2 linked regions of the Homo sapiens genome follow. The protein of the gene in region 1 interacts with the protein of each later gene in a pairwise test. Each region holds a gene or a part of one and is shown on either strand. Other genes may lie near its edges.

Region 1 (3,821 bases):
TATTAAAAATACAAAAATAAGCTGGGCTTGGTGACGTGCTCCTATAATTCCAGCTACTCAGGAGGCTGAGGCACAAGAATTGCTTGAACCAAGGAGATGAAGGTTGTAGTGAGCCGAGATTGTGCCACTGCATTCCAGCCTGTGTGACAGAGTGAGACTCTGTTTCAAAAAAAAAAAACAGAGGGGGCCACTACAAAGCAATTTGAGAGTTCTGTGCTTGTGGGTGAAGTTTATGGACTGTGGCATTCACTATAGAGTGATCTTCATGAGTTGTTTCCTTGGGGTACATCTGATATTTGTTTCTTTAGGTATTTTATCTTGGTTGGTCAGATCCTGTTGGTAAATTTTAAATTTTGCACTATTCGTTTTCTGTCCCTTTCTTGCAGTCTCTAGGTGTGTGCAGTCTTAGGATTCTCATAGATAAAAGTAACTTCTCTAGGTTTCTGCTTCTTCCTTTAGATGTCTTTTTGACTCTCCTCACATTCTTATGTGCTTCCATGGCAATGAGCAGTTTGACAAACTTTTTAAAAAGTAAACAAGAGTTGGTGGGAGTAAACATGAGACACCTAGAATACAAAGTGGGAGTCACTTTCAGTGCCTTATTTTTCCTTAGTCATATTTGATCAGAAATTGGATGAACCTTCGGGATGCTGAGACAGGGAAGATACTCTGGCAAGGAACAGAAGACCTGTCTGTCCCTGGTGTGGAGCATGAAGGTACTTTCCAACCCTTTATCTACACAGGGCTGTGACCAATGCCAGACTAGCACCTGAGCATAAGAGAGCTAAGTTAACACATACCTAATAGGCGGGTGAGCCCCTGAAGACACAGCATGTTAATCCATGTGTTGTTGACAGTTTCAGTTACTTTCTTTTTTTTTTTTTTTTTTTTTTTTTGAGACACAGTCTTGCTCTATCACCCAGGCTGGATGGAATGCAGTGGTGTGATCTTGGCTCACTGCAACCTCTGCTTCCCAGGTTCCAGCGATTTTCATGCCTCAGCCTCCCGAGTAGCTGGGACTACAGGCGTGCGCCACCACATCTGGCTAATTTTTGTATTTTGAGTAGAGATGGGGTTTCACCATGTTGGCCATCCTGGTCTCGAACTCCGGACATCAAGTGATCTGCCCGCCTCAGCCTCCCAAAGTGCTGGGATTACAGGTGTGAGCCACCACGCCCAGCCAGTTACTTTCTTAACAGTTCTTTCTCTCACTTCCCAAAACCCATTTTGTGCTGATATTTTACCATTAGAACATACCCAAAGATAGAAACTAAGATCTCAACTTTTTCTCCAAAAGAAAATTTGCATTTTTATCTCCCTGAAGTAAAGAAGAAGGAAGGGGTTAAAATCACCAGAACAGAGTAGAGAGAAGGTACCCATGCAGCCCCCTTCCTGATGAGAGTAGTTAGATGAGGCCCTTAGATGCACAAAACCTGGTGTTCCTTGAAGATCTAATATCTTTCAGATACGGGTGACCAATTAGAGACCTCTGCTTTCAGCCACACAAAGTGTAATGCACTTACCAAGGCATTATCCAAAATGTAAGAAAGTGTTCTCTAAATCAGCTGTAAGAAAGTGTTCTCTAAATCAGCTGTAAGAAGCTCCCAGAAATTTGAAGCATCATAGTCCTGTGGTTTTCATTTAGAAAGGCTTCAACATTTGTTTTTCTCTTACCAGCCCGTGTTCCCAAGAAAATCCTCAAGTGCAAGGCAGTGTCTCGAGAACTTAATTTTTCTTCGACAGAACAAATGGAAAAATTCCGCCTGGAACAAAAAGTTTACTTCAAAGGGCAATGCCTAGAAGGTATTCTGCTGCCTACATGCCTGAAATCAGGGCTTAGGGCGACCAGGACAAAAGGCAACAATACCCAGTGAACTAAAGCAGTGCTTTGATAACATTCCTTTTACAACTCAGTTTGTGGTAGGATTCCTACACTCTGCAAGACTGTGAATCCCCAGTGAAACAAACCAAAACAAAGCTAGCCACTACAAGGGGCTTTGAGGTCTCTGACACTGGGAGCGTGGATGGTGGTGCCTGGTTTAGGCACTGACGTTGTATTGTGATATGATCATGGAGGAAGCTGCTATGAGCAGGGCCTAGTACAGTGCTCTACATACAGTATCATACAGATTTGACTGGCAAGGCCACTCTGCATTGAATTCTCACCATGCAGTGTAAAGGGCACATAAGCCCCTTCAAGCTAATTCCAAGTGAATTTAACTATGTATCTATATATAGTTCACATCTAGCCTACCTCTAAGAAAATGCTGCTTATATTGTGTCCTGCTCGCTGGTCCTAGTCCTTTAGACCTCAAAGCATGAGAAGCAAGCCTTTGGTGTGGTTCAGAGGACAACCTGAGCAGGCTTCCCTGTCTTTTTTACGCCCCTGGTCTGAGAGGTTGCTGATAGCTTCCTTTGGTGGTTCTCAGGGTAGGAAGAGGCTCACTCTAGAGAGGGAGACAAAGAGCCCTTAAACTTTATACTGGGGCACCTGCTCACCCCGGCTTTTCCTTCTTCCTTCAGAATGGTTCTTCGAGTTTGGCTTTGTGATCCCTAACTCCACAAATACCTGGCAGTCCTTGATAGAGGCAGCACCCGAGTCCCAGATGATGCCAGCAAGCGTCTTAACGTGAGTGAGCAGGTCTCAGGAAATTATGAAGTGTGTCTAGAAACAGGCATTCCAGGCAGGTGGGACTCCTGGTGCCATTCAGTGGGCAGAGAGCTCGGTTGAGAAATAGAGTAAAAGAGTATCCAAGGGTATCTAGGTTTCCAGGTTCCTGACCTTTTTCATATGAAAAAGACAGTATGATAGAGTAGAAAGAATAAAAAACTAAAAATAAAAATAAAACTTTAGATTAAACCAGATTTAAATTCCTGATTCACCCTGACTACCTGTGTCATCTTGGGCACTAATATACTTTATCTCTCTGAGCCTTAGTCTTTCATCTCTAAACACAGAAATTAATTCTGTCTTACAGAGGTGTAATGAAGATAAAATGTGATGACATGGAAGGAGACTGGCATTTAATATATATACCGAATCTATGTTAATTTGCTCCCATTCCTGACTACCGTACTTCCGGTATCTCTGTATTTTGTTTAGATCACCTTTAACAGAATCTGGCAAAGTCCTATTAATAATTCTGTTTTCGAGGATACTACTTGGTTACAGTTTTTTGGAGAATGGCTTACCATATTAATAGCTTTGGTTCCTGTTCCAAGAACAATTTGTTTGTGCTTTTTCCAAAAACACTGTCAATAACTTCCTACCTCCCATTGTCTGTGGGAAAGATGTTAGTCTCTCAAATGTTATAGTAATAGTACCTTCTAAAGAGTTAGCTGGGCGTAATGGCACACACCTGTAATCCCAGCTACTCAAGAAGCTGAGATAGGAGAATTGCTTGAACCCAGGAGGTGGAGGTTACAATGAGCCAAGATCATGTCACTGCATTCCAGCCTGGGTAGCAGACCAAGACTCTATTTCAAAAAAAAAAGAGTTAGTCCCACAGATAATTGTGTAATATTGGATCATCTCTTTCAACAGTTCCTTTATGAAAGCCATATTGAATTTGTTAAAAATTGAGGTTATTGACTTTAAGGTTTTTTGTTTTTGTTTTGGGTTTTGTTTATTTTATTTTTTTAAAAAACAGGGTCTTGCCATGTTGCCCAGGCTGGACTCCAACTCCTGGGCTCAAGTGATCTTCCTAGCTCAGCCTCCTAAGTAGGTGAGACTACAGGCATGTGCCACCATGCCTGTCTCTACTTTTTAAGTTTTTTTTTTTTTTTTTGAGACAGAGTCTCGCCCTGTCACCCAGGCTGGA
Region 2 (3,821 bases), on another chromosome or scaffold:
TAGATAATAGTCTTGGTTGACTTTGCCTTGAATTACATGTAATCTTGATGAAGTCACTTAACTTACTAACTTCATCTGTAAATTGGGAGGTTTTGTTAAAATTTCATGATCTGATGAGGAGAATATAGTAAAGATGATCCTAGCATTATTGTTAGGGAAAATAAAGAGTTTCTGTTAACTGGCTTTATTTGTTTTCATTGATTGTATGTCTATTTTTAAAATTTTATTGTGAAACAATTTCAGACTCAAAGATTTGTAAAAATAGCACAAATAATTCTTATGTATCCTATTAAATTACTCCAGATGTTAATGTTTGTCACATTTGCTTTATCATTCTCTCTCTACACACAGTATTCTTTTTTAAAAAAATGAGAGTAGATTGTAGACATGATGTCTTCAACGTCTGCATACTTTAATGTGTATTTCTTAAATGAACATAGATACATTTTATTGTCTATACACAGATTTTATCAGTTGTCCCATTAATGTCCCATATAGCAAAAGACAAATAATTGTTTCGGGTCCAGGATCATACACTGATTTTAGTTATTTCTCTTTAGCCTCTTTTATTTCATTTAATTAATGAATTAATTTATTTTCGAGACAGAGTCTAGCTCTGTCGCTCAGGCTGAGTGCAGTGGCACCAACTCAGCTCAGTGCAACCTCCACTTTTCAGGTTCAAGTGATCCTCCTGCCTCAGCCACCCAAGTAGCTGGGACTACAGGCACATGCCACTGCGCCTGGCTAATTTTTTTTTGTATTTTTGATAGAGACGGGGTTTACCATGTTGGCCAGGCTGGTCTTGAGCTCCTGACCTCAAGTGATCTACCCACCTCGGCCTCCCAAAGTACTGGGATTGCAGGTGTGAGCCACCGCGTCGAGCCTCTTCAGCCTCTTTTAATCAGCAATTCTTCAGTCTTTATTTGCCTTTTCAGGGCCTTGACATTTTTGAAGAGTAAATAATTATTTTGTAGAATGTCTCTCAATTTGTGTATGTCCAGTATGTCCTTAACGGTTAGATTCAGGTTATGCAGTTTTGGCAGCAATTCCACAGAAGTGTTTTTCAGAACATAGTGTCAGTGAAGTTATTATTTTTCCCTTCATAACTAATATATTTCTTGTAGAGAGATACATTGAGACTGTATAGGTATCCTCCTTCTTACACTTTTTGCCCTCCTGTTGTAGCATCCATTGATAATTCTTGCCTGTGACAAGTGATAAGGACAGTATATGATCTTTTCATTCCAACTGTGATGGTTATCAAATGGGGATTTTTTTAAAATGCCATCACTCTGTCTATGTATCTTGTTTGGAATTCTGTAAGTAAGAGCTCTTTTTTTTTCTTTTTTTGTGAGGCAGTGTCTCACTGTGTTGCCCAGGCTGGCCTGAGACTCCTGGGCTCAAGTGATCCTCCTGCCTCAGCCTCCCAAGTAGCTGGAACTACAGCCATGTACCACCATGCCCAGCTCAGGAGGAGCTCATGTTTGTTTGTTTCTTTTTCTTCATATGAACTCATGGTGCCTCTAAATTTTCAATAAATTAGGCATTACTTAGCTTTTGCATGATATTAAGATTTACAGATTTACTCTTATTTGTGTCATAGGAAAGGGAATCATTTAAAACACGAATTCAAAATCCATTGTAATTTGGCTTTGTTGTATTATAATAATAATTATTATTATTTAATTTTATTTATTTATTTTTAGACACAGTCTTGCTCTGTTGCCCAGGCTGGAGTGAAGTGGCACAACCTTGGCTCACTGCAGCCTCCACCTCCCCATTCAAGTGATTCTGGTGCCTCAGCCTCCTGTGTAGCTGGGACTACAGGCATGCACCACCACACCTGGCTAATTTTTGTATTTTTAGTAGAGATGGGTTTTGCTATGTTGGCCAGTCTGGTCTTGAACTCCTGGCCTCAAGTGATCCACCCACCTTGGGCCTCCCAAAGTGTTGAGATTATAGGTGTGAGCCACTGTGCCCATACTGGTGTATTATTTACTCCTATAAAAAATTACTTAGTAGTAAAACCTTATTTTGGTCAGAACCTGCCTGAGTACGTATTGGTATTGGCTAGCCAGGAGGAGAGCAGTAGCAACTGGCAGGAAAATAAACTTGCCTAAAGTTAAAATTTTACTGAAGGAATGAACATACATATAATATTAACTGTCTTCATTACAAACCCAAATGGAATTTGGGGACTTGTGGCATGACAAATCGTGGGTTGTCTTTATTACTAAAAAGGCTTTGTCTTCTGCAAAGACAAATACTAAGATTATAGTATGCTGGTGAAAATATATGTAATTTGTTCCCCAAATAGGCCCTAGATCTTGAATATGTTGAACAAAATATCTTTTACATTGAAGCATCAGATTACTTTCAGCCTTAGGTAATAACATATATATATATATATATTTTTTTTTTTTTTTTGGAGACAAGAGTCTCGCTGTGTTGCCCAGGCCGGAGTGCAGTGGTGCATGATCTCAGCTCACTGCAATCTCCGCCTCCCAGGTTCAAGTGATTCTTCTGCCTCAGCCTCCCAAGAAGCTGGGATTGCAGGTGTGTGCCACCATGCCTTGCTAATTTTTATGTTTTTAGTAGAGATGGGGTTTTACTATATTGGCCAGGCTGGTCTTGAACTCCTGACCTCAAGTGATCCACCCGCCTCAGCCTCCCAAAGTGCTAGGATTACAGGTGTGAGCCACCACGCCCAGCCCACACATGAGTTTTAAACATAAAAACAATTACTTAATGGCCTTGTGAAAATTAGTGTTTTATGAAAATTGGTATTTTACCCCACAGTAAAATAGTAGTAAGGAAAGTGTATTGTTACCTTTTAGTAACTTAGTGAGACACTTAAGTTTCTGTCTTGCATAAAATACTCTTTTAAGATAATTGTTGGATTTGGGATTTGCAGATGGTACTATAAAGTTAGCATTCTTCTTTCTTGGCAATTAGCTAAAAACAACAAAGAGAGGGAAAAACTGACACACAAACCCAGCATTCCACTAAACTAGAAGACAGTTAAAAACCCCAAGCCACAAAATAGGTGGAAATGTTGCCAGGAGCAGTGGCCATCAGGCTGGCTGCATGTGGGAAGAAGTAGGTAGGATGCCGTGGCTGTGGAGCTCAGAGACAACAAGAAACACCCATGAAACTGCAAGGCCCCCCTGAGGTATAAAACCTAAACCCCTTGTTTACAAAAGTGAAGTGGGTTTCTTCAGCTCAAGGCAGGAGCTTTCCTGCACCTGGTTTAATTCTAAGAAGTCGGGGAAATGAAGCCAAACAAGGAGTCACATAAACAAGCCATTTTTGCAGGAAGTAATATGTGTCTATCTCTATAGCAGTTGGGGAGGAGATGACTGCATTGTGAAAAACCTCCAGACTGCCTGTCTGCATTGGCTGTTGAGAAGTAAAATGCTAAACTGTCTCTTAGGTAAATCTCTGAATCACGAAAAAGTTGTCAGTCCAGAACTGGAGGCACTCTGGCCTTCTGCATAAACCTCCTACAAATATCAGGTTCTGGACAACCAGCACTTCTTCAGAGATGAATAATCAAAAGGAATTCATTAAGCTTGACTGCCACAAATGTTTGGAAATAAAAAAGGAAGAAAGAAACAGAAAAACAAAGGACAGATGAAGAACAGTAACCTAAAATATTGCCATAAAGAAGATGAATATTGTGATCAAACATTTTGCCATGAGTTTAGAAAACTTAATGAAGTATTTACTGCTGAGAGCACAACGCACTTGACATAAGAGGCCGGGGAAGAAATAGAATGATTGCATGAGAAAATGCAAGGTAAGCTGATTGAGTGGAAAGA

What was found.
Region 2: the proteins of PDE6D (region 1) and RAB18 interact in a two-hybrid assay, tested with the Homo sapiens proteins (one large-scale study listed by BioGRID and IntAct).

What each region holds. Positions count from the first base shown.
Region 1 is NC_000002.12:231,735,995-231,739,815, reverse strand, and holds part of PDE6D (retinal rod rhodopsin-sensitive cGMP 3',5'-cyclic phosphodiesterase subunit delta), read left to right. Parts: intron 1-613; coding exon of another isoform or gene 614-627; coding exon 628-716; intron 717-1,677; coding exon 1,678-1,803; intron 1,804-2,523; coding exon 2,524-2,629; intron 2,630-3,821. UniProt on the Homo sapiens protein: Promotes the release of prenylated target proteins from cellular membranes. Modulates the activity of prenylated or palmitoylated Ras family members by regulating their subcellular location.
Region 2 is NC_000010.11:27,510,622-27,514,442, forward strand, and holds part of RAB18 (ras-related protein Rab-18), read left to right. Parts: intron 1-3,821. UniProt on the Homo sapiens protein: The small GTPases Rab are key regulators of intracellular membrane trafficking, from the formation of transport vesicles to their fusion with membranes.